Regions from separate parts of the Homo sapiens genome. Here regions 1 and 3 are each linked to region 2. Evidence: fine-mapped expression QTL. A gene starts in region 2. Each other region holds a variant in brackets. All regions are shown on one strand. Distances are between the middles of the regions.

Region 1 (8,180 bases), 70 kb before region 2:
TCCCATCTGTGAAAGGGGGCTCCGGACACCTGCCTCAGAGGCCTAAGGGTCCAACGCATTGCAAGTGCCTGGCACAAGGGAGGATCTGGGTGGACATTTGTCTCTTCCCTGCCCCACCCTCTTCTGGGTGGAGGCAAGTCCTCTCTAGGAAGTCCTGATGGGGCCACTCCATATTCAAGCCTCCTCCCCTGATTCATTTCTCATGAGCTCCAGGGCTGAGTTGTTGGGATAAACAGCGGGGGTTATAATTGTAGACCCACAGCCTGGGCGGGATCCTGGAATGACAGTGCCCACTACGTCTGCTTGTTCATTGAGCTTTAAGCTCTGCCACCCCTGCAGGGCAGCTCAGTGAGTCAACATCAGTGACCCCTGCCAACACGCTTCGGGACACCATTGTGCCCCCTGCCCCACACACGTGGCACACACCTTCAGAGAGTCCAAACCATGACAGCTCTTTCAACCCATGTGGATGAAGCAATCAGCCAAAATTCCCTGAGGGCCGACGACCCCACTGTCCTGTAGAGAACTGGTAAGCAGTAGTGGGGGGGTCTCGGGCAGGTGAGCAGCTGGTCTTGTGGCCCCCAGGTCTGGTGTGCCTTGTCAACTGTGCCATTGGCATGGTGTTCACGATGGAGGCTGGGAACTACTGGTTTGACATATTCAACGACTACGCGGCCACACTGTCCCTGCTGCTCATCGTGCTGGTGGAGACGATTGCCGTGTGCTACGTGTACGGGCTGAGGAGGTGAGGAGGCCCAGGACCCTCATTTGCATAGGGAAAACACAGCCACAGAGGCCACGCCCCTCAAGGAAAACAGCTGTTTCTTGATGCACATCTTCACCTCTTCTTTAAGCTTCGCATCATGACTCAACGTTTGTTCTTTGCCCGCAGATCTCAGCTTATGCTCTGCCTCTATTCCATGCTCAGTTTGCTTCAGTGAATATCTTTTTCTCTATTCCCTGTACTTTTGCTTTGTATCATAGGCTGTTTTAGGGTTGACCCTGCTGGACCCCCACAGCTTACTGGGGCAGGGAATTGTGCCTCCAGGCACTGGATGCTCTGATCATCGGCCAACATCAGTATTTTCCAAGAACCCTGACCAAAGTCCAGTTGATAACTTAGACCTTAGAAAATTTGGCAGATTCAAAATTTAGTCAGTGAGGTTCTCAATCCCAGTGCACAGCACGGGACTGGAATGTTTTAGTTCTCCCCAGGTGATGGAATGTGCAGCTGGGGCAAGAGCCACTGGTCTAGAGCAACCTTCAAACTCGAGTGTGCCTCAGAGTCCCTTGGGCTGGTCAAACACAGCTGTGAGACTCACCCCCAGGGTTCTGATCAGGCAGGCCAGGGGAGGGCCAAGAATTCACATTTCTAGCAGGTTCCCAGATGAGTCTGGCACCCACACTTTGAGAACCACTGGCCTAGAGAGCTTTGCTACCTCAAGTGTGGTCCCTAGAGCGGGAGCAGCAGCAACAAGGCGCTCGTTGGGACTGCAGAAGCTCGGGCCCACCCCATCCTGCTGAATCAGATCCTGTATCTTCACACTATGTCCAGGGGGCCTGAGGCACATCACAGTTTGGGCAGCGCTGCTCTAGTGGGTGCGGTTTGGGCGAGGAGGCTGTGCCACGTTGTTTTCTGCCCTCTTCCCCAGTCTTTTTGATCCTCTGTGCTGGTTCAGGGTGGGGAGGGAGACATTGACAACACTCTGGGAGGCAGGCATCCCTGAAGCAGCAATCCCTGCTGTGTCCCCGGAAAGGCCAGGGTCCCGTGCCATGCTGAGGGATCTCCCATGATCCATCAGGACATAAGTTAAACAAAGCCAAATTGATGTCTTTCCCGTAGGACTTCTCAGAATCTTAAAGACAGTTGTGGATCCCAAAGAGAGGGTTAGAATTGCAGCATTTCCAGACTTACTTGGTCAAGGAATGCCTTTTCACCCTCCTCTCACCCGACTCCCACCCTTAGCTACTAACATTTTGAGGACACTAGTGTTAAGGGGACCAACTCTCCCTGTTTCCCCAGGATTGAGGGGTTTTCTGGGACGTGGAACTTTCAGTACTAAAATTGGGAAAATCCCTGGTCACCTAGGAAATGCCAGTCTAGAGGGAGAAAGAGATTGGTCACTGAGAGGGTGAGTGTTTCAGGATAAAAAGAGAAGGTTGGGAGAGAGGAACAGAACCTAGGGCCCGCTGGAGGTCACTAGATGGGTGAGGGGCACAAGTCCATCAAAAAGGGGCTGGTGAAGGGAGACAGAGGCAGAAACAAACGTGCCTTGGAGATGTCGTAGGTGGACTGACCATGTAAGTGGCAGGAGGGGAGTGCTTCGGCTTGCTCAGGTGACACCGCCATCTAGTGACCACCCAGCAACAGTGTCCTGGGGCTTTTCTGCAGCCAGCTCTTCCCAACTTTCTCCATCCAGGAAAGGGGGGGGGGTTATGGGGGTGTGAAGGGACAAGAGGACCCCCAACACTTTTTCACCTGTCTGATTTTGAAAGCCCCAGGTTTTCGTGTCACATACATGAGCCTTCATGGCCTGCAGCCTAGAGTCCAACTACGTCAGCAGCAGCAAAGGGCAGGTGGTGGTCGCCACACAGCCTCGCATGGACACCCAGGACATGCAGCAGGTCCCAGGGAGGGAGGGGCTGTGGCTGCAGCTGGTGACGTCACACCCACACCACCCCAGCCCCTCCCGCCAAGGCTGCCTCTTCCGCTGTAGGGAGCAGGTTTAAAGGCTCTGGGCTGGAGGCAGGAGGCCAACCCAGGTTCTGGGCCTGGTCTTTACCAAGCCCTAAGGAAGAAGGCATCGCAGCCCTGGGCCTTGGTTCCTCCTGTGTGAAATGGGGAGTTTCGTTGGGCCAACATCTCCCAAAATGCCAAAGATACTTTTTATACTGTGTACGTGTATTCAAAAACACACGTACTTAGTTTGTCAAGTCGATGAGAAACTGGCTGCTGTTGTGCTGCTGCTAACCGTAGGTTTAAAAGTAAAGAAGAGGGAAAAGAGAGCTACAGGCATGATGGAGGTGGTGATGGTGGCTGTGGGCAACGCCTTTGGGACTCACTGCCCTGGCCACTCTAGACCAGCTCCAGCAGGCCAGGGCTACGGTCCTTCAGTCCGAGGTTGGCTCTTCCTCTGTCCCAGAAAACCTGCTCTGGTTTCAATGGACCAAGTGATTCTGCTCCGTGGTGTTTCTACTGGGAAAGGGAGTCACTGATTGACAGGGGCGGGCTGGGTAGGGGGGTGGGCAAAGCCGCCCAAGAAGTCCCTGTCATTGATGACCAGCCTGACAAATGTCCATCCCCTGCTGCCTGTGCCCACCATTCCTGGAGGCTGCCCTCTGGGCTATGCCAGCAGCCTTCATCTGAAGGCTGGCATTAGGAAGGCGTCTTCTGATGTCCACTCTCTGCGGGTTGCTTGCTCCGTCATCCCTTCTGGGCAGCCTCAGCCCTTCTCCCCTCCCCACCGCAGCACTCGTCTCTCAAGAAGGTGTCACAGAGGAGCCCAGTGGCCAAGCTCAGACATCCTTTACCACCTAGAACAGAATGTTCCTTTGTGAATAGGGACAGGCAAGCTGGACGCCCTGACCTCCGCAGCCTGGTTAATCCAGACTTTCTCTCCCTGTTTTCCAAATAGATTTGAAAGTGACCTTAAGGCCATGACCGGCCGAGCTGTGAGCTGGTACTGGAAGGTGATGTGGGCTGGCGTAAGCCCACTGCTGATTGTCAGCCTCTTTGTCTTCTACCTGAGCGACTAC[A/G]TCCTCACGGGGACCCTGAAGTATCAAGCCTGGGACGCCTCCCAGGTATCTACTGTCTCCGTAGGGCTGGCGCTGGGCCCCCATGGCCACTGAAAAGCATGGGCCATTCATTTTCCGAAACCAGGGGACTATTTCCATGGTGTGGGTAGGTTATTTGTCACGACATGGAAATATCACTGAGGTATTTTAGAAATAGTCCAGCACGGAGGAGCTGGGCTTTGAGCTTTTAGGTATGTGCTTCAGTGGGGCGAGAGGAAGGCACTCCTCCAGAGCTTCCCCATCCACCTGTCCCCCGGAAGCTGAGAAAAACTCCCGCTGCAAAGGCGCCAGCTCCTGCCTCCTGAGCAGCGCTCTCCTCCGCGCCTACCGCAGCAGACAGCACTGACAGAGAACGTTGCTACCTTCACGGGAAAGTCCCATTCCAGGCTAAGAGTAGTCGCCTACAGTTTAGGTTCCCTGAAAGTTGCCTTAGACATAAGGTGCTTGATTATTACCATGGTTATTCATTATGGGTAGCTCCAAACAATAGCTCTACACCCACTGGTTCAAGTAGTTACTATTATTCCTAGTTTATGGAAGAAAAAGAAGGTGAGGGCAGTTAGGCTCCTGGCACATTTGCTAGTGAATTGCAGAGCCCGTGGCCCCAGGAGTGAGGACACCGGCCCCACATGCTCTCTGCCCACGTCACATCACCTCCCCATCACGGATGGGCCCTGAGGCCCAGGGGCAGTGCTCAGCAGGTGCTCTCTGCTGACACTCAGTCTCTCCTTTCAGGGCCAGCTCGTGACCAAAGATTACCCGGCCTATGCACTGGCTGTCATCGGGCTGCTTGTGGCCTCCTCCACCATGTGCATCCCCCTGGCGGCCCTGGGGACTTTTGTTCAGCGTCGCCTCAAGAGGGGAGACGCAGACCCCGTGGCCTGAGATGTGGGCTTCCCAGCCGCTCACGGTTTTACAGATACTATTTACAGGCGGAAACTCCTCGGCTGCTTTTTCAAATGCTTAAGCCAGGAGTGCTCAGCCCATCAACTTCCTGAGTGTCTAAAGAAGATGAGGAAGGTGTGCAGGAAGAAAACTCCCTTGGGAGAACGCACACCCTCCCGTGGTGGCTGTTCCTCCCTGTCACCTGCCTCCTCATCATGGAAGGGGGTGGGCTATGAAAGCCGGTCTCAAAGATAACTGCATCCTTCATTCCAGGAAAGCCCTAGAATTAGGGCACATTGCAAACTGAAATATGACTATAATTCTTATGGGACCAAATTTAAGCAATTTTTGTTTTTGGCTGAAGAGACACCAAAATATTAGAGGACAAATATTTTTAGATCCATTTAAGGAGTTTTGAAGTGCCTAAGATGACCTATTTGTCAGTGGTGCAAAATTAATTCTCTTCTTTTTTGAGTTGTAGTGAATATGCAATTTCTGTGTTCCCCTTCCACCCTTTAAATCTTAGGATGACAAGTTATAAAGAAAGAAGATCTTTGTCTGGGACCCCCAAAGGGATCCTTTCTCTAAGGTCTCTGACGGTGGGTCCAGGACCAGACCTCTCTACAAAAAATTGCCCCAACTACAGTTTGCAACCCCAAACCACATTAGAAGTCTGTGCAGACATCCCTCCGTGGTGTGTGTCTTGGTGCATTGGAAAAGGAGTCAGGAGCCACTGTGAGGTGAGAATGAAAGTGGATCTCAGCTGGGCACGGTGGCTCACGCCTGTAATCCTAGCACCTTGGGGGTCAAGGTGGGTGGATCACTTGAGGTCAGGAGTTTGAGGCCAGCCTGGCCAACATGGCGAAACCCCATTTCTACTAAAAATACAAAAAAATTAGCTGGGAGTGGTGGCATAGGCCTGTAATTCCAGCTACTCTGGCTGCTGAGGCACAAGAATCATTTGAACCTAGGAGGTGGCGGTTGCTGTGAGCCAAGATCATGCCACTCCACTCCAGTCTGGGCGACAGAGCAAGACTCTGACTCAAAAAAAAAAAAAAAAAAAAGTGGCTCTGACTTTCCCATAGGCTTAATATTACATTTGGACATCGTGGCCAACTCTATCAAGACCACAAATACCACTTACAATTAATTTTAAATTATTCATCTGTACATAGTTTTCTAAAATGTATATAATTCAAACAGAGCATCTTGTAACTGAAGACACACCATATCTATGATATCGCATTAGTCCATGTGGGGAAAAGAAAGATCAGATTGTTACTGTGTCTGTGTAGAAAAGGAAGACATAAGAAACTCCATTTTGATCTGTACTAAGAAAAATTGTTTCTGCTTTGAGATGTTGTTAGCCTATAACTTTAGCCCCAACTCTGTGCTCACAGAAACATGCGCTGTAATGAATCAAAGTTTAATGGATTTAGGGCTGTGCAGGATGTGCCTTGTTAACAATATGTTTGCAGGCTGTATGCTTGGTAGAAGTCATCGCCATTCTCCATTCTCGATTAACCAGGGACACAATGCACAGCAGAAAGCTGCAGGGACCTCTGCCCAAGAAAGCCTGGGTATTGTCCAAGGTTTCCCCCCCACTGAGACAGCCTGAGATATGGCCTCATGGGAAGGGAAAGACCTGACTGTCCCCCAGCCCGACACCTGTAAAGGGTCGGTGCTGAGGAGGAATAGTGAAGGAGGGAGGCCTCTTTGCAGTTGAGATAAGAGGAAGGCTTCTGTCTCCTGCTTGTCCCTGGTAATGGAATGTCTCGGTGTAAAAAGCTGACCATTCCCATTCGTTCTATTCTGAGATAGGAGAAAACCGCCCTGTGGCTGGAGGTGAGATATGCTGGCAGCAATACTGCTCTGTTACTCCTTGCTACACTGAGATGTTTGGGTAAAGAGAAACATAAATCTAGCCTACGTGCACATCTGGGCACAGTACCTTTCCTTGAACTTATTCGTGATACAGATTCCTTTGCTCACATGTTTCCCTGCTGACCTTCTTCCCACCTGTTGCCCTGCTACACTCCCCTCGCTAAGACAGTAAAAATAATGATCAATAAATACTGAGGGAACTCAGAGGCCAGCGCCGGTGCGGGTCCTCCACATGCTGAGCGCCGGTCCTGGGCCCACTGTTCTTTCTCTATACTTTGTCTCTGTGTCTTATTTCTTTTCTCAAAAAAATTTTTCTTTTTTTAACTGCAATAAAGTAGGTCGTTACCCCTAAAGTGAGCGAGTCCCTTCCTGCTCTAACGTCCAGTGCTTCCTTGAGATCATGGAATTCTGGAGAGTTTCTGTGGATATATTTGCACAGATATCTTTGAAGACACAAACACTCACCTGGGACGTTGGCCGGAGATGTCTTTTTATTTTTGTGCTGTAAAATTCTCTTACAGCAAAAATAGGCTTTAGAAAGGTCTTCTACTGTCTTCAGCAACCATCTCATCTTCCAGCTTCACCTGATTGTCCAGTTATCATACATTTGACTTTCAAATGTATGAACCAGCATGTACCCCATGGATTTAATCTTATCTACCCCGTGGATTCAATCTTCTTATCAGAAGGTTCTTTTATGTCAAAAAACCTGCTGTCAAGGCTTGAAGAGCCGGCACACTCAATGGCAAACACAGCACCGAGTCTGCTCTGAATCCTGGAGGATCTGGCCCTCCTCTCAATCCCCACTCACAGTCACCGTCTTACAACTCAGGGCCACCTGGGATCAGTCATCAGTCAGGGTGCGTAAGCCTTGAATACCAGGTAGCCTCAGGAGTGAAAAGATAAATGTCCTAGATCATTACCTTATTCAGTGTCCCCACCTTGCAGCGCATTCCAACCACCTGGGAGCATTTAAAACTCCAGATGCCCACACCACACCCTGGGGCCACCCATCAGACCTTCTGGAAGCAAGACCTGGGCCTCCATGGCCCCAAAAACTCCCTAGGTGATCCGATGTGCAGCCAAATCTGAGAGGCCCCATTTAAAAAAGAAAGAACATGGGTGGTACATTGAGGAGTATTTACATTTTATAAAATGACTTAAAAATTTGAAGGCATTTTTGAGCATTTCCAATTATATGGAAGAGTTACTTCTACGGAATAGTTTTTGCTCATGGAACTCAAACAGATGAAGCACCACTGTTACAGAATAATGTGCTCCAGATGAAAATGTCTCGTTTCTGTGAATTTCATGAAGAGCAGAACATTTCTCAAGAATCCTCTTGAGCCAGTAATCAATCCTGTCTCAAAAAATGTTCTTTGCCATTTCCTAGATACTGCACAAAAGTGGCCATGTCGACATTTGTCCACCCACCCTCCAATAAGCTGGAGCGACAAAGGGACATTCCATCCCTGTACCCTTAGTGGTAGCCATGACACGATGGCCAGATCATGGACTCCGGAAAGCTTTCTGTTTTTACTGGAAACATAGCAAACCTTGATTTAGCTCCAAGAAATTGAGTAGGGAAATATTTGTTTTTTAGCAATTGTCATAGT
Region 2 (8,180 bases):
CATTTCCAGTCTAATTATTTTGCAATTTCAAATTTATCACTGTCTGACATTATCCATGCCTATACAAATGGCTTAAAAAGAAAAATGGAGCCTAACAGGATATTTAGAACTGCCTGGAAGTTTAAAAAGTATGAATTTTAAATTCTGAGCAAATCAATATTCTGTTTTCCACATTAAACATATGGAAATTAATATGGACATGTCAACTATATTTGGTTGTAAGTGACTCATTTCAATACCTGGCATGTCTGAGGACTAATGCGAGAGCAATCTGGTAAGAGAAAAAAAGGTCATATGGATAATGCAATGAAATGGAAAGATCACTGGACTCTGGACCAGCCGTATTCCAAGGCTAGCTCTACCATGGCTTGGCTGTATGATCTGACTTTGTGGCCAAGGGCAATTATGAGACTGTTTTCAACAATGACAGGATACCTATCAACCTATGACCTCACAGAGACACTGGGAAGACAATATACATGAAATGACTTTTAAGCTGTGTTTCTTCAAAACGATACATTCCAAATTACCCTAGACTGTGTTCTTTTTGCAGTGCTAGTACGTGGTCTATACTGGAAAGTTCCTTTCATTTACTCAGTTGATTCACTGAGGAGCTGCTCTGCACAAGGCTCTATGTTAGGTACTGAGGAGGACTAGAGAAGAAAATGTTAAGGTGTAAACTGGTTGGAGAAACAAAGTACAGCCATGTGCCATGTAACAATGCTTTGGTCAACGACAGACTACACATATGATGGTGGTCCTATAAGCTTATAATACCGTATATTTACTGTACCTTTTCTTGTTTATGTATGTATACATACACAAATCTTTACCATTGTGTTGCAACTGCCTACAGTATTCAGTACAGTAACCTGCTGTACAGGTTTGTAGCCTAGGAACAACTGGCTATTCCATATAGCCTAGGTGTGTAGTAGGCTGTACCATCTAGGTTTGTGTAATTATACTCTGATGTTTGTACAAAGAAGTTGCCTAACATATTTCTAACATATTTCTCAGAATGTATCTCTGTCAGTAAGAGTCACATAACGGTGTACATAATGATTTCATTTCTAAGTGACAAAATGAGTGGTTCAAACAGTACTATGGATTGACCATTCTAGCTTTCCATCCTCTTGTCCATGAGAAAGTAAATGCACTGTAAACTGATCCTAAGAGACAGAATACATAAATCATGTAAACATTTGGTGTCTAACCCTGTTACAATAATTTTTCATTTTTGGCTTTAAAAACTGTTACCAGAACTCAGTGAAGGAAAAGACATGGAAAGAAAACATTTCTCAAAGAAGGTACCTATGAGGTACACTAAGTACTTCATCTAAACTCTCTTTGGGCCAGGCATGGTGGCTCATGCCAGTAATTCCAGCACTTTGGGAGGCCAGGGTGCATGGATCACTTAAGACGAGGAGTTCAAGTTTCAGCAACATGGCGAAACTGAAAAACAGAAAAAATCAGCCAGACATGGTGATGTGCACCTGTAGTCCCAGATGCTTTGGGGGCTGAGGTGAGAGGATCACTTGAGCCTGGGAGGCTGAGGCTGCAGTGAGCTGAGCTCACACCACTGCACTCCAGCCTGGGTGACAAGTGAGACCCTGTCTCACAAAAATAATAAAAAAAAAAAAAAACTCTCTTTCAAACCTTACAATAATCCTGTGAAGTATCAACATTCCCATTTTACAGACTGAAACACCAATTCAGAAGGATTAAGTACTATGCCCAGGACACAAAACAAGTAGTCAAGTTAAGATATGAATCCATATCCATTCTGACTAACAAAACCTGAGATCTCTTGGCTCTACCATGGATGTGACCAGTATGTAAAGAGAACAGAGAGGAAGAAGGCATTCTGGGTAGAAGGATCAAAATAACACCCAAGTTTGAAGCTAGAAGGGGATGAGCCAAGTTTTGCAGAAGTGGGGAAAAGGCTCTGGGCAGTTACGGGAAATAAATTAGGCGACAGATTATAAAAAGGCTAGAATATACAGATGGCTAAGAAATGCAAGTTTGATCCTATAGGTCAGTAAGATGGAACTGGAAATTGTAAGCAGGAAAGTAGAGGATAAAACCAGAGCATTAGAAAGGTGAAATTCAACAAGGCAGAGATGGGCTGGAGAAAAAGCATGGCATAATGCAGACAGAATTATTATTTAAAATCCGAAGTAGGACAGGTGTGGTGGTGTGCATCTGTAGTCCTAGCTCCTCGAGAGGCTGAGGTGGGAGGCTCGCTTGAGACTAGGAGTTAGAGGCTGCAGTGAGCTATGATCAAACCACTGTACTCCAGCCTGGGCAACAGAATGAGACCCCATCTCTTTAAAGACAAAACGAAACAAAAGAAAAAAAAAACAAGCATTTCAACATTTAAATAAATCCTTTTAGCAATCCTTTTGTAATAAAATAATCGAACTATCTCTTTTGCATGGATATTTCTTAAAACACATCTCCAGACACATTTTAAAAAATGGCTACTATCTCCTACCAATTCTTACACAGAAACCAATTTCACTTCTAAATGCATCCAAAAAAGAATACTCCTTAGGGCAGGAGCCACATTTGAAAACCTTCAACAGCAGCCTCAGAGCAGGAAGGGCCAAAAGGAAGGAATAAAAATGGAAACTCTAACTCATAAACCCCTTGGTAAAGAAAAAGGTGCAAAAAAGTTGTACCTTCACATTTACAGAAACACTCTAAACTTTTTTTTCAGGGGGAAAAAAAGCTAGGACTGACAAATGAGAGAATGACTTTCACATAACCCCAGTTTGACTTTATCACCCAAATAATTTAAGAGTTTCCACTTCTCACAAAAATCAATACAAAAACATCATTCTTACTACTTCAGGGACAAATTTCCTTTCTCTTTTATGTATGCGAGGATTTGGGTTTGTTTTAAGGTCTGAACTGGTTAAATTTAGTGTTCTGGCAGCTGAAAAACAATCATCATAATTCTCAAGTTCTCCATCCTATTCAATCTTTGCCACGCTAAGCTGCATGAAGCCATGGCTCCATATGGCTTAAACACATTTGAGACCTGGTGTAGGATCACATTAAACCCTTCAGTGCCTATCAGATACACAATAACCTAATTAGCTAGCAGAGCACATGTGACAGTGGCCTGGCCAGAAACGCAGTGGAAGACACTTCCTTCAACTCTTTCACCAAAGACGAGGTGAGCACTTTGCAAAGGGGAACTGGGAGAAAATAGGGAAAGGTGGAGAGGAAAATGTGGAGGGAAGTGTGCAGCTAGGGTTTTCAAAGAACATTACAGTAAACAGAAATGGCACCCACAGGGGGTGCACTGTAGAAAAAGCAATCATCTTTTTTGCAACACATACAATGTGGAATAGATGACCTCTCTGAATTTTGCACCTCTAACTTTCCACTGAACCTTTCAGAAAGTTACTAGTGAGGTTGAGGTCTGAGGAGCTTAAGTGCCCAAACCACATTTTGGTGTCATTTCCCTGCAAAAGAAATGCGGTATCTATGCCTAACTGCCAAGGTATTTTAGCTCATATACAGGGATAGATAAGCTTCTAAAAAATTACATTTGTTTCTCCTACCAGATATTCCCAGGCTGTGGCCACCAGATTTTCAAACAGCCTAGGGGTAAAGCATTAAACACGAAGTGAGTACAACAAAATTATTCACAGACAAGAAAAGTGTGGATGCTAATGGGTAACACTAAGGGAAATAAACACATGTTGTTTTTAATCCAAGACAAACCAAAACCCTTAAAAACACCTATTTTATAACTCTTAACAACCACAGCCTCTGTATCAAAGACTCAAGAACTTGGATTTACCGAAAAGTCAATTTGCAGTACCAAAATTACCGAGATTAGCCTCTGGCTGTCGACACTGACTTAAGAACCTGCTTTAGGCTGGAGCTGTTTAAAATTTAAACCAAAGTAAACTCCTTCAGGACCTTAAGACTACTGACTGTACTTTAAATTTTTTCTGCACACTGAAGAGGGGGCAGGCAGGCTTCGGTACCCAGATAGGCTGTAAGCAAAACAAAGATTTGTTGATTTGTGCGTAGACTCTAAATTGCTGCTGTAGGTCCGTTAAGTAAGAGAAAACTCTTTTTCTCTGTTAAGTCATACAGATAAATTTAGTCGGTAGCTCTGCATAGAAAGTGGGGACAAGCGTGCCCTGAAGGGCCGCATCATAACGCCGACCCCGGCTCGGTGGGGGCCAGTCGGCAGCTTCTCTCTTCAGCCGTGGGCGCTGGGGCCGAGCACGGTGGAGAAAGGCCGGCGAGCCGCTGGTTCCCGGCCTATGGCTACTCGGGCGAGGCCTAGGAGAGGCCGCGCCGGCTGAGGAAAACCGGTAAATGCGAGGAGCTCCCACACCCTATCTGCAATCCGGGACTCAGAAGCCCTCCCCGAGGCCAGGGCCCGCACCTGCCGCCCCGCCCGCCGCGCCTCAGGCCTCTGGCCCGTGGGACTCACAGCTTCAGCTGCTCGTAGGCCGCCGTCGCCATCCTGCACAACCACCTCCTTCCTTCTCTCTCCGCCCGCCCCGCCCCGCGCCGCCACCTCGGCTACAACTCTACCGGTCACCCTGGCACAGCGGCCGCAGCTCCCAGCCTCTTCCCACCCCTTTCCCCGCCCCGCAGGAGAGCCGGCCTGAACGGGAGGCGGTGGAGGACAAATTAGTGCGCAAGCAAGAGCACGCGAGAGATGCCGCCGACGCGGCGGGTTGGAGTGCGACGAAGAGCGCCGTGACGAAGCCGCTGCGGATTGGTGGGGCGCGTTTTGGGGAAAGGCAGAGCAGCGGGAGCGCGGCGCAAGGGCAAAATGGATCGTTGGTACCCGGAAGCCCGTTCAAACTGTATAAGGGTGATCAGCTATCACGGAGAAGGCTTTAGCAAGTCGGGGCCAGTGGCGCAATGGATAACGCGTCTGACTACGGATCAGAAGATTCTAGGTTCGACTCCTGGCTGGCTCGCGATGTCTGTTTTGCCACACTTGACCCATGTACTACTGGGTCTTGTAAAGATGTATATTCACAATGTGAAAGTATTACAAGACCTTGGAAAGGTGTATGGTTAGAATGTGAAAGTTAAATATCTGAAATTTTGATGCCGCTTTGCTCACAATGTCATCCTTTATCCTTTAAACCTGGAGTTGTCTGAGGTGGTTTGCAAACTGCAAAGCGCCCTGTTCCCAATGATGCACCTGAGAAGTCTGTAAATGGGGTAAATTTAGGCAAACACACCTGGAAAAGTGGCATTTTGGAGTGGGGAATGCTGTGGCCGGAGGTTAGCAACCGGATGATGCAAAAGCGTATTTAAGGCAGCAGTTCTGGCCTTTCCCCGCCACGGAGCAGAAGCCCCCATAGTGATGTGAGAAGCGGCGCTGTCCCAGTTTACTAGGATGGGATGGGCTTTGGATCTAACCAGCAGCGAAGAAAACCTGCGGTGCGGCTGCGCTCGGTAGTAGGGGTCCACAAAGCGTCAGAATCTGCAGCAGCCCCGGCCTTTGCGAGCTCCAGCTCCGAAGTCAACCCGGCCCCCAAATTCCACTGGGAAACCTTAAGACACCGGTGTTTTTACCGTAAGAAGACCTCAGGTAATCTAGTATATTACCCCTCATTGTATGGATGCGCGACTTGGACACCCGAGAAGGCGCGAAACGTCTGCGGCCTAAAGGGACTCGAACCGGGGGATTATATGAGTCATCGGACACTGTCCGTTAACCAATCACTCAATCGATCAATTAATTTCCGCAACATAACGTTTTCCCCTGATAAAATTATAGATTTTTAAAATATATAAAATTATTGGGAATATTAACGCGATTCCCACCCTAAATCATTACTATTATTTTTTTTTTCCTTAAAGCCTTTTTTTCTTCTATATTTTTTAACATGGGCATACTTGCACATGTGTTTTTCCAAATTGGGGTTGTACGGAAATGGGTTCCTCATTTTGTCTCCTTACCTTTTTGTCTGAGATTTAAGGTCATTAAATATTCTTTGAAGATATTTCATCAGAGAGCTAGATATTTTAAGCAGAATCCTTATGCTGGGAATTTGGGTGGTTGTCAGTTTAACACCTAGAAAAAATGATGCTGCTTAGGAGTTCGAGACCAGCCTGGGCAACATAGCAAGACCTCATCTCTATTTACTAAATAAATAAATAAATTTTAATTAGCCAGGTGTGGTGGTGTGCACCTATAGTCCTAGCTACTCAGGAGGCTGAGGTGGGAGGATCACCTCAGCCCAGGAGGTTGAGGCTGCAGTGAGCTGTTACCATGCCACTGCACTCCAGCCTGAGCAACAGAATGAGACCCTGTGTTGAATTATTATTATTTTGAGACGGAGTCTCGCTCTGTCACCCAGGCTGGAGTGCAGTGGCGTGATCTCGGCTTACTGCAGTCTCTGCCTCCCGGGTTCAAGCAATTCTCCTGCTTCAGCCTCCCAAGTAACTGGGACTACAGGTGTGTGCCACCACGCCCGACTAATTTTTTGTATTTTTTAGTAGAGACGGGGTTTCACCGTGTTAGCAAGGATGGTCTTGATCTACTGATCTCGTGATCCGCCCACCTCAGCCTCCCAAAGTGCTGGGGTTAGATGTGAGCCACTGTGCCCGGCCGAATTATTTGTCTTACAAATTTCTAGAGGTGGAACGACCAGGTGGACATCTGTAAGGTCCATTTTATGGACATTTTTAAGACTTTTGTTACTTTCTGACTGCCCTCCAAAAAATTAAACCAAAACACACTTCCATCAACAGCACCTGTTTCTCTGTTTTCGTGCATGCTAACCAACACTGGCTATTATAAATTTAACCGTGATTTGCAATTTTCATAATTGGAATATGGAACTTCCTTTTACATGTACTTTATATATTTTCTCTTGATGTATTGAATTTTTTCTTACAAATTTGATTTTTTAATATATTAAGGGTATTAACTCTTAAATACGTTGCAATCTTTTTTCCAGCTTATGATTTACCTTTTCAAAATTTTTTTAACGGCTGGGCACGGTGGCTCATGCCTGTAATCCCAGTGCTTTGGGAGGCCAAGGCAGGTGGATCTCTTGAGGTCAGGAGTTCGAGACCCGCCTGGCCAACATGGTGAAACCCTCTCTCTATTTAAAAATACAAAAATTAGCAAGGCATGGTGGTGTGTGCCTGTAGTCCCAGCCACTCAGGAGGCTGAGGCAGGAGAATTGCTTGAACCTGGGAGGTGGAGGCTGCAGTTGGCTGAGATCACGTCACTGCACTCCAGCCTGGGTGACACAGTGAAACTCTGTCTCAAAAAAAAAAAAAAAAAAAAAATATATATATATATATATATATATATATTTGAACTTGTAGTAATTTTCACTTTATATATTCACACTTACTAATATTTGGTTTCTTCTATTATATGATTTTTTAATGTTTTGTTCTTATGTTGTTTTTACCATTTACTTTAATCCATTTGTCATTTATTTTGTTGCCATTTATCATGATGTAAAGATCAATTAATCTTAAAACCTGACACACTTTATTGAGCAATTACTTCATGCCAGAAACTGCTCTAATTCCCTTACTTGGATGAATTCAATCATTCCTTACAACAATTGTTGTACCTGAGCGAGTTAGAAAAACGCCACACTTTAAGACGAATTAAGAGTCCTTTATTAGCCAGCGACCGAGAGACGGCTAACACTCAAAATTTTCTCAGCCCTGAGGAAAGGGCTAGATTTTCTTTTATACTTTGGTTTAGAAAGGGGAGGGGGGGGTCTAGTTAAAACAATTTTACAGAAATAAAGTAGGCAAAAAGTTAAAAGGATAAATGGTTACAGGAAAGTAAACAGTTCCAGGTGCAGGGGCTTTAAGACTATTACAAGGTGATAGACCCGGGGCTTTGGGCGTTATCAATCAGACGAATTCCTGGGAATTGCGGATATAGCTTGCCACAGTATCTTATCAGTTAATTGCATTCTTGGATGTGCTGGGAGTCAGCTTGCACAAGTTAAGTCCTTGAGGAAGGGGTGCCAGTGAAAGAGCCAAGATGGAGTCTGTCTGGCTGTCTTAGCTAAGGGAGAGTCAATTCAGGTGGAAACAAGGCTAGGTGATTAAAGGAAGAGGGAGAGTCTAAAAACAGGGTTAGTAAAAACAAGGTTGGGCATTACACAATCCCATGAGGTAAATTCAGTTGTTATCCCCATTTTTAC
Region 3 (8,180 bases), 45 kb before region 2:
CATTGAGTTCCAGCCATCCATTATAAGTCCCAAATGAGTTCTCTTTCCAGTTCTGGTTAAAGAGGTTAAATTTTAAGTTACAGGTTTGTACACTGAATTCTCACACTGTTTTATGGCCAATAAGCATAAGGTATAGAAATAAGTGAGTGACAGATTTTAAAAACTATCCCTGAAAATACAGATACTTCACAAAAGAAATCACTTGTAGGTCCAAGAAATACCTATTTTCTTTCTAAAATATTACCAAAGGAGGCACAAAGAAACACACTAATTCCAGTTGCAAAGACAAGAAATATGAAGAGAAATACATAGCCCAGGTTAAGTGGTAGGACACAGCAAAGCAAACAGACTAGAAATCTTATTCTGCTCCCAGGGAACCCACATAGCAGAAAAAGAGCCACTGCATGCATAATACATTCAAAATGTTCTCATTAATGTCCTCATTACTCAGTGCAGTCTTTGAAAGCAGCATCAGCATCACCTGGGTGCTTTTTAGAGCACATCTCAAGACTGGTGCTTCAGGTACACGGTAAGGTCTGAGGAGCACTGTGGAGCGGTGGCTCTCAACCCTCCCCAAGCATCAGAATCTCCCAGGGTGGCTAAGAACACACCAGTACCCGGGCCTCACTTCCCAGAAATCCTGACTCCACAGGTCTCAAGTGAGGCCCAGATGCTGGAGTCTTGCTGTTGTTGCTGCTGCTGTCTGAAAGCTGCCCAGGTGATTTTTAAAAGCACCAGGACTGTGAACTACTGATGTGGAATGCTATTTTAAAAGCATGGCTTGCCTGGTAAAGTCAGTCTTCAAGGCACCAGTTCCCGCATATTGCTTGGCACAAGCATTTGCGTTGTCAGCCCAGGCTGTAGAAAAAAGTAAAAACAGCTGATAATTATTAAGATGACAAACAAAGTTCTAAATCCAGAATATTAATTTATTTCAAAATCTGACCAACTTTGTCTATATTAAAGAAATGACCTACCATTTTTGTAAATCTTCTCAAATTCATCTTGTTCTTCAAGCTTTTGTCCCACATGCAAAACTCCTAGTCTCTGGAATAAAAAACCACACCCAGATTTATGTGTAATAGATTTTAGCAGACATGGTTTAGGAAGAAAAAGCAGTCCCCAAATTTTATCTCATGGTGCCTGGTTGCTGGATGCAGGCCAGAAATGTCTGTTGTCTATAGGGGGCCCCAGCTCACAGCAGCCCTCTCCTGCCCAGGGCAGACTGCAAAGCCTCTCCTGAGGGCACCTTTGCCTTGCAGCCCCCGCACTCCCTTGAGGGATAGCAGCAGGACTATACTCAGGGAGAGGGTCAGAAGAGAGAGTGAAAGCTGCTATAGGATTCCAGCCGCTACTTCCTCCCTCCCTCTTACCCCCAGTCTTCTACTGCCTCTACCCCTTGAGACCCCCTCACATGCATCATCCCTCAACTTCTTCACCCCTGAGTCACCCCAGCCTTACCCTCTGTCCCAGGGACCTTTAAGAATCTGATGAGTGCCACCTAATCTACCTCCCCAAAAGTGCACACACACAGACATAGAATATCCCAGGGTTGCTGGGCCCCCTGAATCCCCTCTATAGACTCCCCTTTGGAGACCACCAACCACAGATGACAAGTCCCTGCCTTGTCTCAGACCATCACTTCTGAGAACCACCATCTTCATTGCTTACCTCAGATGACACCTCATCTCCACCTCAGAAGGAGTCATTCCCACCCTCAGACACAGCACAGGAGCCACCTTGGTGACCTTTAGCTGGGTAAGAACTCTGCCTTCACTGGCAGACTTGGAGAGGCACAAGTAGACAGCCCCTACACTAGTAGGCAAAGCTGCTGGAGAGGCTCCTGCCCCCACTCTCTGCAGGTTGGTTAGGTTTCATAATACTATATATAGCATGTAAAATTGTAAAATATGGATTGCAGAGCCTAGTCAAGTAAGTTTTGGTTAATCAGCCATGGAACCAAACCATTCCTAATATTGTTTCTATTAAAAACTACACTTAGAAGACCTTCCAACAGACGAGGACATAGCACAATACAAACTACAGACTACTCCAACAGGGACAGCACTCCTCTGGCAGGTGTGACTTTAAGATTCAAGAACAATTCATTCTGAAGGGGGTATTTTACCTCCATAATTTCTTTCTCGGTATCATACAATTGTCAGAAATAAAGCTGAATGCTTACTAATTACCTGAACAGGAAACCATGTGGTATGCATTTTGTCTGCCCCTCACAACAAATGCCAATGTGATTTAAAAATTGGGGCTCTACATCTTTTTCATTCCAAATATACACAGAAGAAAAAAACCATTTTTCTCAACAGCATAGTCTAGTGGTAAAGCAAAGCTGTGTCAGAAACTTTTTACTTTGGAGTCAATATTCCTTGCTAGTAATAAGAGAGAGATAAATAGAAACAATCTTGAGGTGCTACTTTTGTATTAACGAAATAGAAAAAAAAGAGGCTAGACACAGTGGCTCAAGCCTGTAATCCCAGCACTTTGGGAGCTGAGGCAGGTAGACTGCTTGAGCCCAGGGGTTTGAGACCAACCTGGGCAACATGGTGAAATCCTGTCTCTACAAAAAAAAATACAAAAATTAGCCAGGTGTGGTGGCACATGCCTGTAGCCCCAGCTTTGTGGGAGGCTGAGTTAGTAGGATGGCTTGAGCCCAGGAGGCAGAGGTTGCAGCAAGCCGAGACTGCACCACTGCACTCCAGCCTGGGCAACAGAGCCAGACACTTTCTCAAGGAAAAACAAAAAAAAAATTAAAATATCAAATGCTGGGAAGAGTTCAATGAAATGGATTTACTGATTCATTATTGGTGTCAGTGTAAACTGGTATGACGCTCTTGGAAAATAATATATTTATTCTCTTTAACCCAGTAATTCCACTTCTAGGAATTAACATGAAGGAAATAATTCAAGTTAATAATAACATATACAGATATATTCTCTACGGTGTTATTTATAAACCAAAAATGTAGCAATCTGAATGGCTTAGTAAATTACGGCACAACAATACAACCACCAGAAACTGTGATTACATAAATGCTAAGGGAAAATGGCAAAAGTGAAAACTGTGCATACACAGACTGACCCTAGTTATGGAAAATGTGACATCCATGGGCAAGACACAAAAATAAAAAGAGCTGGGTTAGGGTGTGGGCAATGTGAATATTTTTTGTTACTGGGTTTTAAAGATGTTTAATTTTTTGCTGTGTTGTTTTTCAATTAAAAAAAAAAAAAGCATTCGCACCTGAAGTTGGGCCTGAAGTGAACGACGAGCTAACAAACTCTGGATCACATTGGTTCTATCTAGACAATCCATGCAATTGCTTCGGAACACGCCTTCCTGGTTTGCCACCACCTGGCCAGCAGAGTCCACTAGAAAATAACTAAAACATATTTGTATAAACACTCTCATACCAAAGTAGGTCAGATTTACTAAGGACTTAACTCTTATAACATGGGTCTCATTTCAGTGACATTATTAAAAACTGTAAATTAAAAGGTCAGACAGGAATGTGTGGTCAGGCATATGTGATTATCCTAGACCAAAAAGAAGTCTAAATGGCTGAGGCAAGACAGCCCTCCATCCAAAAAATGGCTGAAGATTAGAGATCATCTCACCCCAAAGATGTGAAAAAGTAAAGTTAAGAGTATTAAAAAGGTTGCTGTGCAAATCAATCATGTTTCCCAAAGCCAGATGAGGGTTTCCTCTAACATAATTATTCCAACTATATCCCTAGATGTCAGGGCTTTATGATTCATATACTATCTTTAGAATCCTCTGGGTTGCTTGTGAAAAAAGATTCCTGGCCTTGAGATCAACTGAATCAGAATCTCTGAGGCAAGGATTGAATATTTTGCATTAAAAATACTTTTAGCTGGGCGTGGTGGTGCGTGCCTGTAATCCCAGCTACTTGGGAGGCTGAGGTGGAAGGATTACTTGAGCTCAGAAGTTCGAGACCAGCCTGGACAACATAACGAGTCCCTGCCTCTAAAAGAACAAAAACGTAGCCAGGCATGGTGGTGCCTACCTGTAGTCAGAAGGCTAAAGTGGGAGGATCACTTGAGCTCAAGGGTTAAAGGTTGCAGTGAACTATGATCACACCACTGCACTCCAGCCTGGGTGACAGAGCGATATCCTGTATCTAAATTAAAAAAAATTTTTTTTAAATACTTAAAAATATTTTTTTTCTTTTTCTTTTTTTTTTGAGATGGAATCTCCCTCCGTCACCCAGACTGAAGCACAGTGGCATGATCTCAGCTCACTCCAACCTCTGCCTCCCAGGTTCAAGTGATTCTCCTGCCTCGGCCTCCTGAGTAGCTGTGATTACAGGCACCCACCACCATGCCTGGCTAATTTTTGTATTTTTAGTACAGATAGGGTTTTGACATGTTGGCCAAGCTGGTCTTGAACTCCTGACCTCAGGTGATCCGTCTGCCTTGGCTTCCCAAAGTGCTGGGATTACAGGCGTGAGCCACAGCCCCCAGCCAAAAAAAAAAAAAAAAA[T/AAAT]TCTTAAATGGGTAATACATGCAAATAGTACAAGATTTATAAAGAACAATTGGGTATTATTTGAAAAATCAGTTTCCCTTCCTCCCCTTAAACATCCAGATGTCTGCACTGCAACCAACCACAGTTACCAGTTCCCATGTTTTCTTTAACAAGCTCCTTGATAATTCTATGAATTCAAAAATCTGACAACACACAGTGTGGTGGTTAAGAATATGGATGCAGGAAGCAAACTATCTGTTTGCTAGCCTTAGCATCATACGCAACTTACTAACTCTAGAACTTTAAATAGTAAGCTTTTTCATCCACAAAATGGAGGTAACAGCAGCACCACCATTAGGCTTCTCTAAGGTTTGAATGAGATAACACATAATGCACATAAAGTACTTAGCACAGTGTATGGAACACAGCAAACAACGAATACTGGATAATGTTAACTATTGAAACTATTCTCCAAAATCCAAAAGGAGGAAGAAAATGCAACAGATTCATCAAGGGCTAAATACAAATCATGACCTCAGGAACAAAAGCGTGGAAGAATGTGTTAGGATGAAAAATCTACATATGGATCATGCAGAATTGGTAAGGTTCGTTTAGAGTTGGTGTACATATATATGTGTGTGCAAGGGTGTGTGTGTCCGTACCCCATGAATACTTATAAAATCCTAGATATGTTATAAACATTATCGCTTAAACTATACAGTAAGTTATCATCTTCACTTTACAAATGAAGAAACCGAAGTCTGAAGATAACTAAGTGGCCCTGGGTCATATTACTACTAAGAGAAAAACTTAAATTCAAACCAAGGTGTGTTGGATCCCAAAGCCCAGATTCTTCCCACTACCCCCAAAACCCTTAGAAAAAAGTCTCGAGAGATCATCTGAAAGTCACCAGTGAAAGCTCTGCTCTCCCTGTGGACCACAGTGAACAGCAACGAACACAAACTCTGGAGTCAACTCTCCTTCTTTCTTACACTCTTGTACGGCAGCAGTTAATGGGTGAACCCAAGGAACTACCTCCTCCAACAACATGCCAGGGCCAGCCAATGTTTTCTCTAATTGCCCAACAACAGGAGGTCAATTTCCCTTCTGTGTTCATGGCAAAACGTCACAGAAAAAAAGCAGATTTAAATAACTGTAGTTGATTACCTAATGTATATAAAAAGATATTTTTGAAAACTGAGCAAATGTCTATCCAAGAGGTTTTACTATATTATTGTGTAACAAATTAAAAAGTGCATTTGGATTGCCAGGTTTAGAACCATCACACACAGGCAGAAGAAAATGGTAGTACGATTTACAGATTCCTTCTTCTGGCTTTAAAATCGGTAAAGACTGGCACGCATAGAGTATGGTAAACCTGAACCAATATGATAATATAGTACTGCAAAGACATTCAGACCCTTTGATCCATTAATCCTACTCTGAAGAATTTTTTTAAAGAAATAAATTTAACAGATGTAAAATATATATAATGATTCATGGCACCACAATCTTTCATGATAGAAAGAGGAAAGGAAATAAACCAGGTGCTCAGGGTGAAGAAAAGCACTTTCTTAGAACTATGTTATGATAAAACAGAATATAGAAAAGCCATTAAACACTATCATTACAGACGCTGTACAGGTTAACAACAAAATACTTGTGATAGAATGTCTAGTGGAAACGACAATACAAAATAGTAGTAAACCAAGTTCAATTATACAAAAATTTGTAAATGTATGGTAGATAATTTATAAAAATATGAAGATATCTGGCCTTGGGTCATTTTTAAGAATTCAAAAATATTTTGAAGTCACCAAGTCTCATCTTTCCAGTAAAGAAATTAAAAATAATAAAATAGTACAGACAAGCAATGACAATCCAGTGAACTGTACTTGTAAGTCTGCTGGATGACGCATAATAAAATATGACTGATATATATACCTCTTCCCTCTACCTCCTTAAGGAAATAATATAGCTTACCTTAATTCATCTTGCATTTCTGCTACCTGATCCAATAAAATACTTAGTCGATCCCATCTCATATTTTTACATTCCTTATGGAAGTCAAAGGCAATGTATCTACCAAAAGAAAAGATATTCAGAAACCGACCAGAGATCATTCATTTTCCTTCTATTAATAATACCTTCATAAGCTGATTTTCCTCTTTATATCAGTGCATACATATTTCTTGGGAACACTAGAACCTCCTTCACTCTGGGTTTATCACTATACATATACTACATGCACACACACACCCCTTCTCATGCTCATACCTAGCAGAGGAAAAAATATATATATGATATGTGCAGATATAAACATGAAAATATATGCATATATATCTATCCTCACAGGTTCTTCTGGGGCCCTCAGGAGGAGTAGAGGAGAAACACAACAAATGGTAGTGAAGTAAGCTCAAGTACAGCAATCAGGTATGCACTGCAAAGAGGCCTAGTCCAAATTCCTTAAGGCAATTCTAGTGGCAAAGTATTATCTATGGAAACTCTCTGGAGCACAAAGCCTCAATGAGGGAATTTTAATCAGAGACTAAACTCAAAACTTGACTGAAAAGAAGTTATTCTGCAACATAAATTATGCTAGAGAAATTTCAAGCCAACAAAATATCATGCTTTGATCTACTATTGAAAAAAATGCAAGCTGAAACATATGTCTAGTGAGCTCTATGTAATCATGCATATATGTAAGTGCACATCTGATCTGAAAAGACCTGCAACAGATTTCTAGTGAGGTACCTCATCATTCCACTTCCCAAGGAAGACACCATTGTTGCAAATGTCTGCTCAAGTGGCTTCTCCGAGCCCTTCTGGTTAATCTGTAAAAAATTTCAAACACCATAGTTTCCAGTTTATTTCAAAGGAGAGAATGGTATCAGAAAAAGGACAAACTAGGAAGCTCTAAGCTCTCATCATTCTCCCACAGAAACATCAAAAAAACCCAGAAGCTGTCTGAGCCAACTTTGTAGGAGCTCTGAAAAACGATTAAAGGTTTTATAGTAACCCACCCAAGCACCCAATAAAGTAAAAGTCACTTTCAAAATGGTGGGAAAGTTTTGTGGCATTTAACTTGTCCTTGACCCAGCCCCTCCTCAGAGTGGTGACAACCTTAGTCTTACAAGGGAATAACCGGGTTCTCAGTTCCCCTCATCAAACTAGAGGAGGCAGACCAGACCTTATTTGCATATAATTGTGTACATCTGTTGTAACATGAAGGACTAACTCATCTCTGTCCCACGTATCTCTGAACACGGGCAGTAAAAATGGTGACCACTGTTTGTAAAAGCTACAAGAGGAACATAAACCAATGGATGCCTGAGGCAAAAAATTCTGGATGGAGACATACAATAGACCATCTAAAGGCTGGAGAAGAAGCTTGGTGATATTCTTAGGAAATTAGGACTTTCAAAAGCAGCCATGTATATGAAGGAGTTTTGAAGGCCACCCACATAACCAGGCAAGATGCATGCTGAAAAGAGTCCTGAGAAGACCTTAAACCTTTACCACAGACTGATCCCTAGGCTCACAGCAAGCCTGGCTACTCAGCAAAGGACTGCCCCAGCATACAGCAAGTCTGCAAAGAATGGGGGACAGGGTTGTTCTCTCATTTTTGCTTTCTTTTTTTGTTAGTTTGTCTATTTCAGTTCTTGGAATTCAATGAAACCTGTCA

Direction of the effects. Alleles are on the strand shown, and positions count from the first base shown. SD is a standard deviation of normalised expression in the study named. Not every link is listed here.
In carriers of allele T in region 3, the expression in Th1/17 cells of the gene that starts at base 4,564 in region 2 tends to be lower than with AAAT alone (large effect, 1.1 SD a copy in Schmiedel 2018).

The links.
Region 1: its variant is fine-mapped to the expression of SACM1L in whole blood (TOPMed, PIP above 0.99).
Region 3: its variant is fine-mapped to the expression of SACM1L in Th1/17 cells (Schmiedel 2018, PIP 0.95).

The regions. Positions count from the first base shown.
Region 1 is chr3:45,755,478-45,763,657 of GRCh38, reverse strand. SLC6A20 (solute carrier family 6 member 20) reads left to right here. Exons shown (of 11, transcript NM_020208.4): 9 at 586-745; 10 at 3,636-3,801; 11 at 4,531-8,180. The coding sequence ends at 4,680. Among named protein-coding and RNA genes, the nearest start is that of SLC6A20, 37 kb to the left of the region's middle. The variant A/G (reference allele first, on the strand shown) is at 3,757.
Region 2 is chr3:45,685,780-45,693,959 of GRCh38, reverse strand. It overlaps SACM1L (SAC1 like phosphatidylinositide phosphatase), which reads right to left and starts at 4,564. Exons shown (of 20, transcript NM_014016.5): 1 at 4,463-4,564. The coding sequence starts at 4,494. It overlaps LIMD1 (LIM domain containing 1), which reads right to left. Exons shown (of 8, transcript NM_014240.3): 8 at 7,619-8,180. It overlaps LIMD1-AS1 (LIMD1 antisense RNA 1), which reads left to right and starts at 5,078. Exons shown (of 3, transcript NR_033947.1): 1 at 5,078-5,584. TRR-ACG2-1 (tRNA-Arg (anticodon ACG) 2-1) reads left to right here and starts at 4,889; the gene lies at 4,889-4,961. RefSeq lists a silencer at 4,373-4,552 and enhancers at 4,583-4,872, 5,133-5,182, 5,693-5,762.
Region 3 is chr3:45,730,450-45,738,629 of GRCh38, reverse strand. SACM1L (SAC1 like phosphatidylinositide phosphatase) reads right to left here. Exons shown (of 20, transcript NM_014016.5): 12 at 7,250-7,329; 13 at 6,479-6,577; 14 at 3,257-3,395; 15 at 978-1,047; 16 at 786-858; 17 at 1-52. Among named protein-coding and RNA genes, the nearest start is that of SACM1L, 45 kb to the right of the region's middle. The variant T/AAAT (reference allele first, on the strand shown) is at 4,517.